3 separate regions of the Homo sapiens genome follow, and regions 2 and 3 are each linked to region 1. Evidence: fine-mapped expression QTL. A gene starts in region 1. Each other region holds a variant in brackets. All regions are shown on one strand. Distances are between the middles of the regions. Region 1 holds the start of GYPC (glycophorin C (Gerbich blood group)). Region 2 overlaps LOC105373602 (a long non-coding RNA gene). Region 3 has its middle 110 kb from the start of GYPC.

What was found. PIP is the estimated chance that this variant, and not a neighbour inherited with it, causes the effect.
Region 2: its variant is the best candidate, but not a certain one, in a credible set for the expression of GYPC in lung (TOPMed, PIP 0.85).
Region 3: its variant is the best candidate, but not a certain one, in a credible set for the expression of GYPC in naive CD4 T cells (Schmiedel 2018, PIP 0.70).

What each region holds. Positions count from the first base shown.
Region 1 is chr2:126,652,811-126,659,069 of GRCh38, reverse strand. It overlaps GYPC (glycophorin C (Gerbich blood group)), which reads right to left and starts at 2,912. Exons shown (of 4, transcript NM_002101.5): 1 at 2,758-2,912. The coding sequence starts at 2,806. RefSeq lists enhancers at 1,213-1,442, 1,633-1,882, 1,340-2,179, 2,973-3,262 and a silencer at 2,513-2,882.
Region 2 is chr2:126,583,777-126,590,035 of GRCh38, reverse strand. The region is part of intron 2 of LOC105373602 (a long non-coding RNA gene); the gene reads left to right. Among named protein-coding and RNA genes, the nearest start is that of GYPC, 69 kb to the left of the region's middle. The variant C/A (reference allele first, on the strand shown) is at 3,466.
Region 3 is chr2:126,762,155-126,768,413 of GRCh38, reverse strand. No RefSeq gene overlaps it. Among named protein-coding and RNA genes, the nearest start is that of GYPC, 110 kb to the right of the region's middle. The variant A/TA (reference allele first, on the strand shown) is at 3,235.

The DNA of each region.
Region 1 (6,259 bases):
GAGAAACCGGTGTGACCTTTAGGAGGGTAGTTTCTTAAGATCTACTAACATTTTAAATGAATACACACTTTGTCCCAGAAATCAAATGCTGAGGTGGGAGAATTTATCCTAACAGTTTACAGACACATGCATGTAAAATCCTCCTTACTCATTGTCACAGGACTGCTGTGTGTGGTTTAAAAAAATTAAATGAAGTCTGCATACAGCCTAAATGCCCATCAGCAGAGGAACTGATTAAAGAAAATAACAAGGTATAACCTTTAAGAGATATTCTGATGGAAAAAAAACAAGATGAAGTAAAATATATAAAATGCATTTTTATTATGTAAAATAAGAAATATTTGTATCAGCAAATTTACTTCTAGAAGGATTATCCTCAATAAATAAAGTAATTGCCATTGAGGTAGGGAGAAGGTGTCTTTCTCCTATTTTTAACTCTTCATTCACTGTTAACTTTACTGTTTGTTTGGTTTTGTATTTAGAGCGTGCTTGTTGGCCCACTGGGTATGCTCAGTTACTGGAAGATGTTTTGGCTGTGGCCTCAGACAGGCACTTGAGGCATAGATGTACATACAGGTCTGCCACCTGAAGAGGCAAACTGACTTGACTTGGCCCAACCTCTCACCTCTGTTGAGGGGACCTCTTCCTACTCACTGCAGATGGGTTCACTTGTTCCCACCACAAGCGCAGAATGCCTTGTACTTCACAACCCTTTGCTCCCCAGGGAGCTCTGCAAGTCCCCAGAAATACTTGCCCAACCACGGGCACCCTTGGAAGGGTCCAGCTGCTGACCACCAGCATCATGTGACTCCCAGTGCCAGTGACATCTGGAGGAATTGAGCAATGGCTGAGGTGGAATTTCATTTGGCACTTAATGCAATCCTCTGCTTCTGCCAGAGGCGGTGAATTCTATATAAAGCTGCCAAACCTGGCCGTCTTCTCACTGAGCCTTGACCCCTTCCATCCAAGGGCAAGGCAATGGATTGCTGTGCATGACTCACGCGCAGTAACTGTGGCATTGGGGCCTAGCCCAGCTGAGCTGAGCAGAGCAGGCCGGCCTGGCGGAAGTGGGTCCTCTCCGCTCTAACCTCTGGCTCTGATGAGCAGCTACATAAACTGAGACAGGATATAGACACATCCTGCCTGAGTTAGCAGCAAGAAATAGCCGCCCCCCACCCCCCCTGCAGTTCTCGCACAGCAGGGATCCTGCCATAAATCAATCCGAAGTCTAATGTGGAATGGCTTGCAAGCAAGGGCTGCACCGCTGTTTGTCTCCCAAGGCAAGTGTTGAAGGTCTGAAACCTGAGTCCTGGAGAACTGCTTGGGCTGCTGGGCTGGGCTGGGCACGGGGGCGGGGGTCAGGCAAGCCCATCCTCTTCAGACATGAGAATGCCTCTCAGCCTCACCTCCTCAGTGACTGAATTGGAATAATGACAGTGGCTCCTGTCCCTTTAACCCAGGACCTGCCGTATACACACACATAAACATATGCTCAAGTTACGTGCTCCGGGAACCACAGTCTCATGTGCAATTATATAAACATGCCCAGCACGGATCCAGCACTTAGGATGTGTCAGACTCCGTGCCGGGACATTTATACGCACTTCGTGCTGCTGGATGAGTTATCTCCTGTTATTATTCCTACTTTCCTACTTTGCAGATGAGGAAACTGGAGCTAAGAGAGGCTGCCTTGTTTATAGGCAGTGCAGATGATCCCAGTGCAGACTGAGGGGCCTCGCTCCCAAGCACCACTGATGCCTGCGCACTCCCAGGCTGACGCAAGCACAACCACAGGCACATGGAGTGCCGTGTACACACGTAGACCGAAGCAGCACTCCTCCACGCCAAGCTCCAAGCTCAGGCGGGGTGAGGGGTGAGGCCTCACAACCCCCTGGATTTCAAAGACTTATAAAAGAGTTGGTGTCTCCAATACCCATATCATTATCATATCAATAAGGTATCATTGTCACATGATAGGCTCAGGGTATCTCCTCTCTGACAGACTCTAAGAATCAGACCGCGGCAGGGTGGGGGTAAGAGGGATGTACATTACGTTTTTTGGTAAAATCAAATGGTAGTTTTTATTGCAAAAGTCCAACGGCAGAGGAAGAGGGCAGAGAGAGGCCCAGCAATGTTTCCAAGCATCTACAAAGACTTTCATCACAGATGATTTCCTCTCAGCAAGAAAACGTGATGGTTTAAAAGAGAAAACCAGCAGCGAGGAATTACAAATCCCCAAAGGATCCAGGCCGCAGGATTCCCTCGCATCTGTGTGCCTTTGCGGCGCCCAGCGGAGCGAGCAAGTCCCTGGGCAAGGCTGGAGTTGCCTGGAGTTCACCGGAGCCTGGCCGGTCGGACCCTGGCTGGGGAGCAGCACAGAAGCAACTTGTGATGTGAACTCTCACCTAACTGTTCTTTAGGGAGACAATTCTGGCCCCACACATTTCACATGCCCCGCACAAAGAAACAGAAAGCGGGCGACACGCCCTGGGAGGGCGGGCTGGCGGCTTCTCCAGCTCGGAGCGCGTGGAGGCTGCGCGTAGGGGTCCGGGACGCGGGACAGGGACTCCGCGCAGCCCAGGCGCCGGGGAACCGGGGCTGGAGTCGGGGATCTGAGCCCAGCGGACGCCTCCTCCGCCTGGAGGCCCGGCACGGACCGGGACACCAGGGCGTCCGTGGCCGTGGCTCGGCCCCTGGCTGCTGCGGGCCGCGGCCTCCAGTGGGTCCCCAGGACCCTTCCCCACGGCGGGTACTCACCGAGGCTGAGAGGCCACGCCGTGCTGTTGGGGCTTCTCGTCGACCACATTCCTGGGCGTCAGCCCGGGCAGAGACCGCGGGGACTGGCCAGGCCGGGCCAGGCCGGGCCGGGGGAGGGTCGCGCTCCCGGGCTCCTGACCCTCGGCGGCGAGAGGAAGCGGCACCTGGGTCACACTCCTCCCGCGCGGGCCGAGGGGAGGGGCTCTGGCCCGGAGATAGGCAGACTTCATTTATTTTTTTTCTGCAGACTTGGCTGGTGGGGTTTCCACCCCCTTTTTTTTTTTTAAACACACACCCGCCCACTTCTGAACTCTTCTTTGCTCCAACTTTCCTGCGCAAGAACCACGCTTTTCTAACCGTTTCTCTTTCCATCTGCCACTACCGGATACAGAGGTTGTGGTTGAGAATTCCCCCTGGAGTGCAGGGAAAACTCCCCAATGTGACATGATGGCCTGGCCCAGCACTGTCGGGGATGGTGACCAAATAGGGCAGACCTGTGTTGAAATCTTGGCTGGCTGCGCGGCCGCTGGATAGCTGGGCGGCCTCTCTCAGCTGCGGGGCATTTGTCCCTGGAGAGAGTCCCTGTCTTGTTGGCCTTTGGGGGCCCTGTACTCATGGATGGGCTGTTGAGCAAAGATCATTCCAAAACAGGAAGAATTGCTGGACAAGAGTCGTGATTTGTTCCCATTGCTTTTGTCTGAAGCTGCCAGACACAGTGCAGTTTGTGAATTCGCTCTACTTTTGCCATGAAAATCTCCACGTGGATTTCGATACATACCTTTGTTGGTTAAATGCAGTCAAATGGCACCACCTACAAAAAATGTATCATAGCATTATCTGCCCCTTCTGCCCAGAGACAAGGGCAGGGAACTTGAGGCCCTTGTTTTAAATCCCCACCCAGGGGAACACCCTGTGCTTCTCCTGTGTGATGTCTGAACCTTCCTGTGCTGCTTTTCATTGTTTACTTTATAGTTCCCCAAGCACTTTTGTGACGCCCACCTCTCCCCTACCTTCTGCCATTAAGGCCTATCCTGCACAATCCGGAGAGCCAGGCCAGCTGTCTGTACAATGTATGGGCGGTGCCTTTGGGACTGTCATCTGCATTGAATACAATGAGAGGCTGCGCCCTGGAGATTTGCAACACAGAGGCTTTGCTCACCTCTAGCCGGGCTGCACAAACTCCAGGCCTTCTTGACGCAGTGGGAAAGCACTCATGATTCACTTTAGTTAGATCATGAAGAACCCCCGATGCTGATAGATCTTTACTCCAACTGCCATGTGCAGCACAGCCATGTTGAATTGAAATAAACTACTCACAGAATGCCTTTGGCCTGGTGGGGAAGCCCTGAGTCTTGATTTCCTCATCTATAAAATGGAGGCAAGAACACCTGCATTCCGGGGTTTTACAGAGGCAGTGATTGTAGAATCACAGTGGGAACAGAAAAGGCATTTAATAAACAGCAATGAGTAATGATTAATTTATTTTTATTTATTTATTTATTTATTTTTCTGAGACGGAGTTTTTGCTCTTGTTGCCCAGGCTGGAGTCCAACGGCGTGATCTCGGCTCACCACAACCTCCGCCTCCTGGGTTCAAGCAATTCTCCTGCCTCAACCTCTCGAGTAGCTGGGATTACCAGCATGTGCCTCCACGCCTGGCTAATTTTGTATTTTTAGTAGAGACGGGGTTTCTCCATGTTGGTCAGGCTGGTCTCGAACTCCCGACCTCAGGTGATCCACCCACCTTGGCCTTCCAAAGTGCTGGGATTACAGGCGTGAGCCACTGCACCCGTGATTACTTTAACAGTTTAACTTTTTTTTTTGGTAATACATACACATACGTCTACGTGGAACAGTAGTCCCGCTCCTCTGTCCTGAGAGAAAATAACTTTAATTATCTGAAATGCAGCTGGAAAGTTGGAAAGAAGCAGAAAGTTCTGCCAGGTAACAACGGACAAGTCATTAGGTCATTGCAGCACACTTAGAGAAGTCACTTTTACAGACTCATTTAGAACCTACTGGCCTTAGACGTAATCATAAGAGATTTCCTTAATTTCTTAGGGTAAGACAGGTTGAAGGCATCAAAATGTTGCAGAGAATTCCTTACAGAAAATAAGCCAAAAATTAATAAACTAACGAACTAAACAGTGAAAATTGAAAGCCCCACAAACTGCAGAGGTCAGATACAAGAACGAAGTAGCATTTGTTACAGAACTAAAGCAATCTCAGCTCCAGCCATCACTGGAGGATGTGACAGTTCCTTGCGCTATTAAAGACCACAGGGCTTTGGAACTCAATCTGGGTTAGTTACTCTACTGCCTACTAGCTGCGTAACCTTCAGCATTTCACTTTCTTTCTCTGAGCCTCATTTTTCTCAGCCTGGAAATTGGAGCAATCTGCAAAGTTAGGCTGTTGTGAGTAATATATTCGATAATAATTAAAGAGGTAATTACAATGAGAGTACACTGGAGTTACTTAAAGATATTGGCCCCCTTCCTCCTCTAACACATACTTTGTTCATAGTAAGGACCCCAAGTCATTTGAAAAAGAAAGTAAATAGTGTGTCTTAGTGTGTAGCAAATTAGCTAACAGGGAAACATTTGACATATTTTAGAAAATTTAACTATGAAAGTGTCTAATGTTAAATAAATGACTCTTAAGAAGGGAAAATAATTATGTGAAAAATTTAATTATATGGTAACAGTCTGACATAAGTCAAGAAATGTATTATTAGTGTGTCTTCATGTGTTGGATATTTATTAATGAAGTTAAAAAAAAAACTCAGCTATATCTTGCAATAATAAACCAGTTCTTATCTTGTCTAGTTCCCATAAATACTCTTAAACGGAGTATTGCCAAGAGTCCATTGTAAAGATGAGAACCCAGAAGTTCAGCACAGTGACAAGAACTTGCTCTGCAGTGCAGCCGGGATGGACGGTTCTAGCTGTGTCTTCATTGACTGTCTGTGGCTGATACAAGCTGCAGAGCCCTCCAAGATGTGAGATGGTATGATCCAGTCCTGGAGATGAATTTTCTCTTCCTCTTCAGGGAAGAAACTGCTCATGGGAAACTGCCTTCCAAATCCTCAGTGCTAGTTCCTTATTGGGAGTGGAGTTGGCGGTCCCCTGCTGCTGTTGCTGTCTCCTGGGTGAGCCCTTACAGATGGTGGTAGGTAGATGTTGCTTGGGCCTTTAATGAAAGGTTTTGCCCCTCATCACAGTAACACATGCTCTTTGTGCAAAAAGAAAAAATAAAAAAGAAAAAGCCAAAAAGATACCTAAACCCTAAGAATTGCTTGCAATCTCCAGCACATTAAGGTTATTTACCTTTAGTCTTTTTTATGCATTTACGAATATTTGCTTTATACTCTTGAGATTTTACTGAATACGTGATTTCAAGTGCTGAGCTTTTACTACTAAACATTATGTCATGAGCATTTTCTCATGTAAAAGTAGAAAAGCTCTTTAACTCATTTTAATTACTAGGTTGTTTCATTTTCTTTG
Region 2 (6,259 bases), 69 kb after region 1:
CACACTGTATTTATTAGTTTCTTAGAGAAAAATTGGAGTTTACTAGTTTGAGGGATTACAAAATGAAGCCACTGTAAACACGAATGCATAGGTTTTTGTACAAATATAAGTTTCCATTTCACTAAGGTAAATACCAAGGAGAATTTCTGAGCCACATGGTAAATCTATGTTTTACTTTATACGACACTGGCACTTTGTTTTACAAATATCTACCATTTTGCATTCCCACCAACAAAGTGTTATGTATTATAGCTATTCTACACCATTAGCAGAACGTGGCATTTTCAGTTAAAAAAAAAAAAAAAAACATTCCTCCTAGGAGGTGTATAGTGATACTCATTGTGATTTTAATTTGCTTTTCCCTGATAACTAATAATAATGATCATCTTTTCTATGATTATTTTGTCATTCTCATATTTTCTTTGGTGAAGTGTCTATTAATGTCTTTTCTCATTTAAAAAATTGGGCTATTAGTTTTCATATTTTTGAGTTTTGAAAGTCTTTTTGTGTAATTTGTATGCAAGTTTTTTATTAGATATGGGATTCGTAATTATTTTCTCCCAATCTGCAAATTGTCTTTTTAACTTTTAAAGTCAGATAAAGTCCAATTGATCAATTTATATGTGCTTTGGGGAAAGGATTGATATTTTTTATTGCATGTAAATAACTGATTGTTCTAGAACCACTTATGAAAAAGACTATGTTTTTTCCAAGGAAGTACTTTTGCACCTTTGTAAAAACAATCACGTATATGTCGGTTTAACTCTAGCCTCTTTATTCTGTTCAATTGACATTTGTGTCTGTCCTTTTGATAGTATTCCATGTCTTCATTAATGTAGTTTTATAACTGAGTATTGAATCAGTTATTAAAATTCCTCAAAGTTGGTTCTATTTTGTAAAATCTGTTTTGGCTATTCTAGTTCCTTTGCCTTTCCACACAAATCTTAGAATCACTTTTCCTATTTCTAAAAATTCTGCCAGAATTTTCGTTGAAATTGGGTTGTATATATGTTTTAATTTAGACAGAAATGAATTCTTAACAATATTAAGTCTTCTAATCCATGAACAAGGCATATCTTAACATTTAATTAGGATATCTTTCATTTCTCTTACCAGTATCCTATAATTTTTACCATAAAGGTCTTTCACATTTTTGCTATAGTTATACCTAAGTATCATATTTTTTGGCATTATTATACATTTATAAATTATATTAACATTTTCTATTTCCAATTTTTTCATTGCTATTGCATAGAAATGCAATTGATTTTTATATATTGACCTTGTGTCGAGCAACATAGCTAAATTCACTTATTACTTCTAGTGGTTGTTTTGGTTAATTCTTTATCGTTTTCTATGCAATCAACAATTGCAAATAGAGGGAGCTTTTTTTCCTCCTTACAACCTTATGCCATCTATTTTTCTTGCTGTATTGTATTGGGTAAAGCATTAATTATAATGTTGAATAGGAGTTATAACAGTAGATATTGTTTATTTATGATATAGTGGGAAAACATTCACTCCATTATTTTATTCCAAATTATAGACAGACTTTAGCGAGATGAATGTTGCAATATTGTATAACATAATCACATACATTCTATCATTTTTCTCATATTCTATTGAATGGAAAGAAGTTACAGGTCCAACCCACACTCAAGAGGAAGGGATCCCGCAAAAGCATGAACACTCAGAGGAGTGGATTGAGGGGCCACCTGAAGAATCTGTGTATCATAGCAATGTTTGCTTTGGGATTTATAGTTAGCATCTTGTACCTATCACTGTTTACCCATAAGTAATATCACACCCTTTCCCACATGATATAAGAAATTTGTAATGTTATACTTCTGTGTTTCCCTCCTGGCTGTTGTGCTGTTGTTGCCATACATTTTACTTCTATGTATTTTATACATTTCACAATACATTGCTATTATTTTTATTTTAAGCAATCAATTATGTTCTAAAGATATTTTTAAAATGAGAAGAATATATATATATATATATTTAACTGACATATTTATTATTTCTGGAGTTCTTTGTTCTTTTACATAGAGTTTTTCATCTGATGTCATTTTCTTTCTAACAGACTTTCCATAATATTTTTTGTAGTGCAGGGTAGCTAATGATAAATCCTTTCAGCTTTTGTTTGCCTATGAAAATCTTTGTTTTCTTTTTTTTCTTGAGACAGGGTCTTGCTCTGTCTCTGAGGCTGGAGTGCAGTGGTGCAATCATAGCTCACTGCAGCCTCGACCTCTTTGGGCTCAAATGATCCTCCTGCCTCAGCTTCCCCAGCAGCTGGGACTACAGGAACGCATCACCACACCCGGCTAATTTTATTTTATTTTTTTTGTAGAGATGGGGTTTCACAATGTTGCCCACACTAATCTTGAACTCCTGGCCTCAAGCAATCCTCCCACCTTGGCCTCCCAAAGTGTGGGGATTATAGGCATGAGCCACTGCACCCAGGCAGTTTTGTTTTCGAAAGATATTTTTGCCGAGTTTTTTTTTTTTAATAGTAAGTTGACTTCTTTTCTTTCAGTACCTTAAAGATGTCCCACTATTATTAACTTGTGTTCATTTTTACCAATGGGAAGACTTCTGTCATTCTTACCATTTTGTATGTAATGAGACTTTTTTTACTGGCTGGTTTTAAGATTTCTCTCTATCACTGGTTTTAATATTTTCAACTATGATGCATTATGGTGTGGTTTTCTTCATATTTCTTGTATTTGTAGTTCCTTGAGTTTTAGGATCTGTGGGTTTCTAGTTTTTATCAACTTTGAATATTTTTGGCAATGATTTCATCAAGTATGTGTTTTTCTATTTCTACTCTCTTTTTATCTTCTTCACATATTCTAGTTATACATAGATTAGGTTTCTTGAAGTTTTTCCATAACTCACTGATTCGCTTTTCATTTTTTATCCCTTTTTTCTCTCTGTTTTTCATCTTGTCGTTTCTATTTTTATATTTTCAAGTTTACCCCTTTTTCATCTGTAATGTATAATGTACTTTTAATCCCATTCATTATATTTTAAATCTCCAACATTATGTTTTTTTGCACCTAGGAATGTTATTGGAGTCCTTTACTTATGCTCCATATCTCTGCTTACCATGCTCACGCGTCCCTTTTTTTCTTATGCATGTGGAATGTAGTTATAAGAACTGATTTAACATCTTTGTCTACTAATTATATTGTCTATGTCACTTCTGGGTCTATTTTTATGGACGGAATTTTCTCCTCTCATTAAAATGTGAACACAATATGGCTTTATTTCTTTCTAATAGGTGTTCCCCCTTGCATTGTTATGGGATGATTAGATTGCAGTGTTATCAATGCTCTCATAAAGCAGCGGGAGCACCAGGAAAGCAAAGCTGATCCATCCTGAGGATCGAAGAAGATTTCCCAGAGGAGCACGGCATGTGAGCTGAGTGACCCAGAGTAAGCGTAGACAAAGGGGAAAAAA[C/A]AAGCAAAGGAAATTCCCAGTGGACAGAAGCACATACACAAAGCACGGAAATGAGAGAAGGGTACACTCCAGGGACACCAGGGAACTCACTGTAGCTGAACTGTGGGTAGGAAATGGAAAGTGACCACGCCAGACTAGCACATGTGCCCAGCCCATGAGAACAGTTGCGCATTTGGCCGGAGAGATTGAGCTTTGCTTTATTGGCCATGGGAAGACTTTAGAAGGTGTTTTTAATTGTGGTAAACATACTTAACAGAAAATTTACCATTTTAACCATTTTAAATGTACAATTTAGTGAAATTAAGTATAATTACATTCTTTTGAAACTATCATCACCATTCATCTCCAGAGTTTTTTCACCTACCCAAATTGAAATTCTACATCCTCACTGTCTTAGTCTATTTCATGCTGCTGTAACAGAATACCTGAGACTGGGTAATTTATAAAGAAAAGAAATTTATTTCTTACAGTTCTGGAGGCTGGAAAGTCCACAATCAAGGCATCGGCAGGTTTGGTGTCTGGTGAGGGCTGCTCTCTGCTTCCAGGTTGGCTCCATGAATGCTGGGTCTCACATGCTAAAAAATAGGAAGGCAAACTAGTTGAACACTGTGTGAAGCCTCTTTTATAAAGGTCTTAATCCCATTAACCAGGGAGAAGCCCTTATGGCCTAATCACCTCTAAAAAGCCCCGCTTCTTAATCTGACTACATTGGCAACATCTGCATTTTGGAGGGGACACATTCAAACCAAAGCCTTCCAATCCTGGCCCCGAAATACCTGCCAAAATTCATGACATGCATAATACATTTGTTTTATCCCATCACCCCCCAAAGTCTTCACGCATTTCAGCATGAACTCAAAAGTTCAAAGTCCAGAGTCTCATCTAAATTGGATATGGGTTAGGCTCAAGGCACGGTTCATCCTGAGGCAAATTTCCCTTTAGCTGTGAGTCTGAAATCAAGCAAGTTATGGGATTCCAAAATACAATCATGGGACAGGCACAGGACAGACATAGGAGAATAGGCAAGAAGAAAGGAGTAACAGGTACCAAGTTAGTCTAAACCCAACAAAGAGAACACTAAATCTCAAGACTTGAGAATTATCTTCTTTGACTCCATGTCCTGCCTTCAGGACACAATGGGGTAAGGGCTGGGTCTCCAAGGCTTCTGGGGACCCTCTCTCTATTCATGCTGTAGCAGATCTCACAGGCTGGAGTTAAGTGCCTGCTTCTCTCCCAGGCTGCCATTGCACATTGGGGCCCCTATACCTCTGAAGTCTTGGGAGCATGCATGGAACCCTGTGCTGCCAAATACTGAAACCCACACTTTCCTTCACATTCTGCCATCAGTAACTGGGAGTCTCATTCCTGTTTATGAAGGAAACATTATCTCCCATGAATGTCGTGTTTACTGGAAGGAGTAACTTATTAACAATAGCTAACATGCAATGAGTGTCTTCTGGGAATGAGTGTCTTACAGGAGTGAACTGACTTGGTCCTTATAAAGAGCACTATCAAATAGATGCTATTATTCCAATATTAGAGTGAGGAAATAAGAGCTAGGGAAGCAAGGGCTTGCCTAAGGTCTCACAACAAGTGGAGGTGGAGCTGGGATTTGTCCAGGCAGATGACCCCTGACTTCACCACACAGATTTATGGAATTTGGCCATATGGTATCCATTAGCTGTTGAGACTCATCTCCTATCTCGACACTAGAGTGTACCTTAGGATTGGAGCACAAGGTGGGCCAGTCTTATAGGTTTGGCAAGTGTAGACATAGACACACTGTTCTGTGAGGAAGGCCTGGGCTGAAATTCCTCAATAATAATCTTTGACAGCCAGAGGACCCACCCCTGGACAGCATGTGCACTGCAGGTACAAGGTAGGGGAATTATGTTATGGGAGCAGTTGGCTGATGTGACACACACTTCTGCCTCATGAGTAGAGGGCTGCTTGGCCCTGCAGTTGTCACAAGAGGCAAGAAACTTCTGTTACTTGGAGAAACAGGGCCCTTTGGCAGTCTATTGCCTCCATTCTCCACCTGCCACCAAGCAGGTCTGCAGGATCCGGCCTCCTTTGGCAACCTCACTCCCTGCAATGCCCCCAGCCTATGTATCCTCAATGCTTCATCACACCAGAACCTTCCTGGAGCCTGTCTTTTTCCTAATTTCATCTTCTGTCACTGCCGTGGTGTCCAGGTTTTGCTCACCCTAAACTGGAAGGCTCTTTCCACCCTTTCTCTATTGCCATTGTCCTATTCTTTCCTACTATGTGGCTTTCCAGATTCTGCCAGGCGTAGGAAAGGAACACATGTCTTGGCGTCTGACACATTTGGGTTGGGAACTTGACTTTGTCACTTACCAGCTGAGTGACCCTGCATGTGACACTGAAATTCTCCAGTCTCAGTTTCCACATCTGTAAAATAGGGTAGTCCCATCTAACTTGCAGTATGGTAAGGTTGTGTATAAAAGGCAGCACCATGTCTGGTACATGCGGTTGATAATCACGAAGGAATGGTGATGATCCACTATAGATTGACCAACTGAAATGTGGCAAATGCACATTTATTTATTCATGCAAATGGAAACACAGATATTATATGCATTTGATGAGGTTGAATATTCACACATGCCACTGCCCAGATGGACAAAGCAAATGTTGCCTCTTTATCTACAACCTATTCTGTCCCATGAGCTCTCACCTGGCCTGGTAGTGGGAAAACTTACACTGGTTTAATTAGTGTTCTTTTGGTTGAAAATGTATTCCTTCAGGTTAATGATAAGACTCTCATACTCCA
Region 3 (6,259 bases), 110 kb before region 1:
TTACTGGCCTTCTCCTCTGAAATGGTTTGGCTCTGTGTCCCCACCCAAATCTCACCTTTAATTGTAATAATCCCCACGTGTCAAGGGCGGGACGAGGTGAAGATAATTGAATCATGGGGTCGGTTTCCCCCATACTGTTCTGATGACAGTGAGTGAGTTCTCATGAGATCTGATGATTTCATAAGGGGCTTCCTCCTTCACTTGGTACTCATTCTGTCTCCTGCCACCCTGGGAAGAGGTGCCTTCCACCATGATTGTAAGTTTCCTGAGGACTCCTCAGGCATGCAAAACTGTGAGTCAATTAAACCTTGTTTCTTTATAAATTACCCAGTCTTGGGTATTTCTTCATAGCAGCATGAGAACAGACTAATACATCTTCTTCAGAACAAAAAGGCTGGGTAAGGGGGTGGGCACGGAGGTTCCCAGCAGTACTGTGCTCACGGCATTGTGCCAAGTGCATACTTGTCCTCCATCTGAGCCTCCACAACCCTAAGAGGAGATGTGGTCAGAAGCAACCCAAGGTTTTGCCAAGTGAAACTCCGTAAGGAGACAGAGCAAATTTCCAGATAGGCTGGGATCGGAGCCCACCCATGACTCCAGCTCTGTGTGTGTTTCCTCTGAGTCTTCCCTTGCATTGCTGTCCCAGAGAAAACACTCTGGAGCCCCCAGGAGGTGCCTCCTCTTGTGCTACTGCCCCTGGGGAGGGGGCTTCCTTCCCAAGTGGGCATGGGGCTATTGCTATCCCTGTTTATAAAAGAAGACACCAATTGTTGAGATGAGAGAGTGAGAGAGGAAAGAAGAGAGAGAGGGAGAGAGAGAGAGAGCACACAAGAGCAAGCAATGGAGGAGCAGCAACTGCTGCAGAGGGGGATGTTTTCATTGAATTTTCCATACGCTAGTCACTCGCCAGTGTGGAGATGATGCCAGGGAAGGTGGGTAATCATGTGAAACCAACATCACAAGATGGGGGTAGAGTCACTGAGCCCTGCTGTCTCTTAATGTTAGATGTTGAACACTTGGGCCAGTTGACTCAAACGTGATTTCGATCTTAAGTGTCCAGCAGTTTCCACCTGCGTAGAAGCTGCTGGCTCTAGGTCCTGCTATCGGGGGCTGTTCCTGGCATAGGCACTGGGGTTGGGGGTCCTCACAGACACCACGCTGGCTTGCTGTGTCCTCCTCTGGGGTGGGGCACAGACCTAGGATCCCCATGTGGATCACAGCACTGGGCACTCCGCCTATACTCCCTCCCAAGGCCGTCACATCAGAGCGCTCAGAGCTGCAGGGAGCTGAGCTCTGCAGAGTCCAGGGATCCACATCAGGGAGGCCAGCGAAGCCTAGAGGATCCTGCAGAGGGGAGGAGTAGCGGGCTGGGGAAGGTATGAGGAGATTTTCCAGAAAATCGCAGCTTATCCCTCTCTTCACAGAGATGCATCTCTTTCTGTGTGTGGTTGTGCTGTCTGCAGTCATATACATTGTATCCAAGGGGCTGGCAGTATTTTGATATAGTAACAGTGTGAATTTTGTTCTTGGTAATTCCTCTTTTAACCCAACTGCTTTTCAATTTAGACTTTGACGCTGAAACATTTTGGACTTTCCCTGGGGGGACCAAAGGAAGCAGTGCTTGCCTGTAGGTTCCTATGTGTGGAGGAACAACAGAGCCACTTCGGGTCGGGTGGATTGGGCATCTCTGGGTAGAGAAGGACTTTGCTTCCTTCCTTGGGATTGGAGTGGGAAGAGGCTCAGGGAAGCAGAAAATTCCTTGAGCCCCCTGTCTTCCCACCACCCCTGGCCTGACATAGTAGAATGGACCGGGCAGTGAGATAAATGAGAAAACCTTGGAATGTCCCAGACTGGGGCAGGAGAGCATCTGCAGACTTTCAGGCTTCTGAGAGGAGTACTTGCTGGCGAGAGAACAGTGCCCAGAGGGGAGCCTGGAGCCTCTGTAGGAGAACATCCTCTTAGACAGTGGAGACCAGAGACAACAATGGAGTGCTGGTCATCTCAGCAGCTCCCAGGAGCACCACAGGCCATGGCCAAGGACCAGACACCCTCCCTATGAAGTCCTTCAGAGCTCGGATACCACCCTGGTGAGAAACTTGGGAAGAAAACTGAACGCACTAGAGGAAAAGAGTATCATGCACATGAAATGCATGTGATTAAATTTTCTGGAATCAGCAGAATTGGGGCTTGAAATAGAAATTATGTCCAATTATAGAAAAGATTTTTTTTATAAAAACATACCTTCCATATTTTTTGAGTTACATCCCAGATTGACATCTTTGTGGCCTTTGTGGTCTTTGTGGCCTTGGAGATGAAAGTAAACTTGGTTTACCCCACCCCCCAATTCCACAGCCTGGCAGCTCAGCAAGCACTGTTTGAGCTTCACCGGGTATCTGGAGAGCAGCCTTCACTCTACGTTTTATGTTGAATCATTTCTTTAAATACAAACAGTGCTTGCCATTAGAATTTTTAAAATGCACTTTCTACCTTGCTTTTGCACTTACAATCTCACACTGTGTAATAATTTCATATAGAAATATTTTTGAAATGTACTGCCTTCTTCCCAGGTGAGTGAACAGGAGTTGACCCAGCAGGACCAACTCCTTGATGCCATGGCCATTGCCAGTTTGCTTTGTCCCTGTTCTGTGATGCCTGATGTTGAATGGAACTCCTAGCTGCTGCCAGCTGATCAGCTTGGTTAGGAGCAAAGTGAGCACAGTGCTTGGAAGCCCAGTAGTGGCCTCAGACCTCTTGGGCTATTCCACCACCCACTCAGACTCAGACCCCTCTGACATCCTTCAGACCCCAGGCTTGGTGGGCATCTGCAAGGCTTGCTGCAGAGCCTGATGCAAAATGAGCACGCCATAGATGATGGCTTGTTTCATTATTATTTATTGCTACCCAGGTCTAGACAAAGGCTATCAGAGGCAACAAAATAAGCGAGATCCTGTCACGTTTAAAAGGGAGAGAGATTATTAAATCACTACAAGGTTGAAGACATTTTTAGCTAGTCAATTTTATACAGTATTGATTGACTCCCATTTATGGAAGATGAGAGTATCAGTGCCATTTACATTTTTCCCCTGTATAACCTCTGACCAACTTTTCATTGTTATTTGTGTTTTATTTGATCTGGACATACAACATCCATATTCTGTTATATAAACAGGGTTCCTATATTTGTTCCATATTAGTTATAGATGTAAACAGATTCACTGCTCACCACCATTTTTT[A/TA]AAATCTCATTTCTTCATCCCTGAGTTTTTATTTTGATTCCTCTTTTGTCTAGATTTTTTTTTTCTTTTTGCAAAATACTGTTTCAGGGAAAGACTACTGGATTTGGTAATCTCTGAGCTTCTTATTTCATGCCTGCATAAATTGATCTATTGCCTAAGTGACATTAAAAGTCATCTTGGTTTCTATACTTAGATGGCATCTTGGCTGGATATTACGCCCACCACCATTTTTTAAATAATCATTTCTTCATCCTTGGATTTTATTTTGATTCCTTTTACGTCTAGATTTTTTTTTTTTTTTTTTTTTTGCAAAGTACTGCTTCAGGGAAAGACTACTGGATTTGGTAATCTCTGAGCTTCTTTTTTTTTCATGCTTGCATAAGTTTACCAATTGCCTAAGTGATATTAAAAGTCATCTTGGTTTCTATGCTTCGATGGCATCTTGGCTGGATATTATGATCTGCTATTTCCTTCAGGACTTGTAGACAATACTCCCTTGTCTTTGACATTGCTATTGCTGTGGATTCATATATATGCTTTTTACCTTTTTAGGTTATTTATTGTCTGTCAGAATGGCTGGAAAATTCTTTCCTTATTCTTTAATTTTAATAGTTATCTAGGAAATAAGACATTTCAGTATTATGTGCTTTATATAAAAATTTCCCCGATTAGAATGTGCATTCTTTTAATCTACAGACTATTTTTTTCTCCGCAATTTCAGAAACTTTGAAAAGAAGACATTATCCATTGCAAGTGTTAGGACAGGCTTTCATTCCTATTGTCTGTTTCCGCTCGCTGCTATAGTAGTGTCCTTTATCCACAGGAGATACATTCCAAGGCCCCCAATGGATGCCTGAAACCGAGGATAGTACCAAATCCTATGTATATAGTCATCCCCTCCGTATCCACGGGGGATTGGTTTCAGGATTCCCCTGAATACCAAAATTTGAGGATTCTCAAGCCCCTTAAACAAAATGGCATAGTATTGGAGTGTAATCTACAAACATCCTCTTTATACTTTAAATCAATTCTAGATTACTTATGATACCTAATATAAAGTAAATGCTGTGTAAATAGTTGCTGGACTATATTGTGTAGGGAATGATGAGAAGAAAAAAGTATGTATGTGTTCAGTACAGCTGCAACCATCCACTTCGTGTGTATCAATCAACTATCTACAGTTGGTTGAATCCACAGATGTGGAACCCATGGATATGGAAGGCCAACTGTGCTGTGTTTTTTTGATCTGATAACTGGGATGGCTAGTGAGTAACTAATGGGCAGGTCATATATACAACACAGATGCATGAGACCAAGGAGATGATTCATGTCCCAAATGGGATGGAGTGGGTTGGTGGGATTTCATTGCTGCTGTTCAGAACAGTGCACAGTTTAAAACTTATGAATTGATCATTCCTAAAATTTTCAATTTAATATTTTTAGACTGTAGTTGATCAGAGGTAATGGAAACCTCAGAGAAAGGAAAACTACTGTATCTTTTCTGCTCTCTTTCCTTTCTTCATCTACGTTCATTATCCAGTCACTTAACCTCACTGAGCCTGCTGCCTCATATAAAGTTGGAATAATATACCTATCTCAGGACAGCTCCTAGGATTAAAAGACTTAATATATGTAAAGCTCTTAAGAAACAGTGCTCAGACCAGAGCAAGTCGTGGAAAAGTGGTTGTGATTTTTATTATTATGGATTTTTAACATTATTATTACTCGTCATAGTGAAATGGTTCATTGCAAGGACTCTGGAGCCAGACTGCCACATATTAGCTGTGTGACCTTGGGAAGATACTTAACCTCTCAGTTTCTTGTTTTTGTCCTTTGTAAAATGCAGTTAATACTTGTCCTTACCTCAGGATTATTATGAGGATTAATAGTTAGTAAAGTGCTTAGAACAGTACTGGCATGCAGTAAGTGTGCTGTATGTGTTGTTCAGTAAACATTTCCTGAAGCTTTTCCTGCAGAAAAGCAATTATTTTCAGTAGTGTTTATTCTGTTTCTTGCTGTTTCTAATGTGTTATCTGTAATGATGTTTTGATATTAATTTGCTTCTGTATGTCTATAATGTTTTTTCACTTCGTTCTGTTTTATCATTCTGTCACTGAGCTCTCTTGTTATTGACTTTACACCCTTTTAAGTTGTACTTTAAAGCAATTCTGGAACATTTCTTTTCACTCCTTGAGTGATGTTTTCTTCTAGGTAGGGTTCTTTGTTCTTGAATGCTCTTTCCCTTTTCTTCATTGTTAGTGTGTGTGTACGTGTGTGTGTGTTAGTGTATACTGTGCATATCTGTGCTCCTTTGTGTAAGTGAATCTTTTTTTTTTTTTTTTAATCTTGCCTTCTGCTCAGGCAGCATTGTCCAGAGCTTCTGTCTGCTCCACTCAACACTGTGGTGACTTTCTTCTTTGTCTGAGGCACCTTACTTCCCCCTTGAGAGCCTCTGTTTCACTGGATTACTGCAGCCTGAGGGCATGGCACAGGGATGGATAGGGTACAGGCTCTGAGAGCCCTGGGCTGGGGCTTGCCTCAGATGGCTGAAGTGTTGACACTGGGAAAAACACCTGCATGAACCTGTTCCCCATTACTAGAGGTGGGGTTAGGGGAGGGTTAGACCTTTACTCATGTCCCAGTAGCCAGCAACCACTTCCATTTTTTTCAGTAAGAAAGGACAAGACCCCCACTCCTTCAACTCCAGTTTTCTTCACTCTGGGCTTGAGGGTGCTCGTGAGAATGCTCAGCGTTTTTCAGACTTGCCAGTGTGTTCTTTGGGGTGGGGCAGGTTAGCCTCGGTGAGGTGGGCGGCTTCCTGTCTGGGTGTGTAGAGCACCAGCTTGTGGCCTGCTCTTCCTTTGGTTGCTGTTGGAGAAACTTTTTTTGGAGGGGGTGGGGCCTTTAATGTATGCTTCCACTTGTTTTTTAAAAAAACATAGTAAATTAATTTTCTTTTATTTTTCCCCAACTTTACTGAGATATAGTTGATAGTTAAACATCACATGGGTTTAAGTTGTCCAAC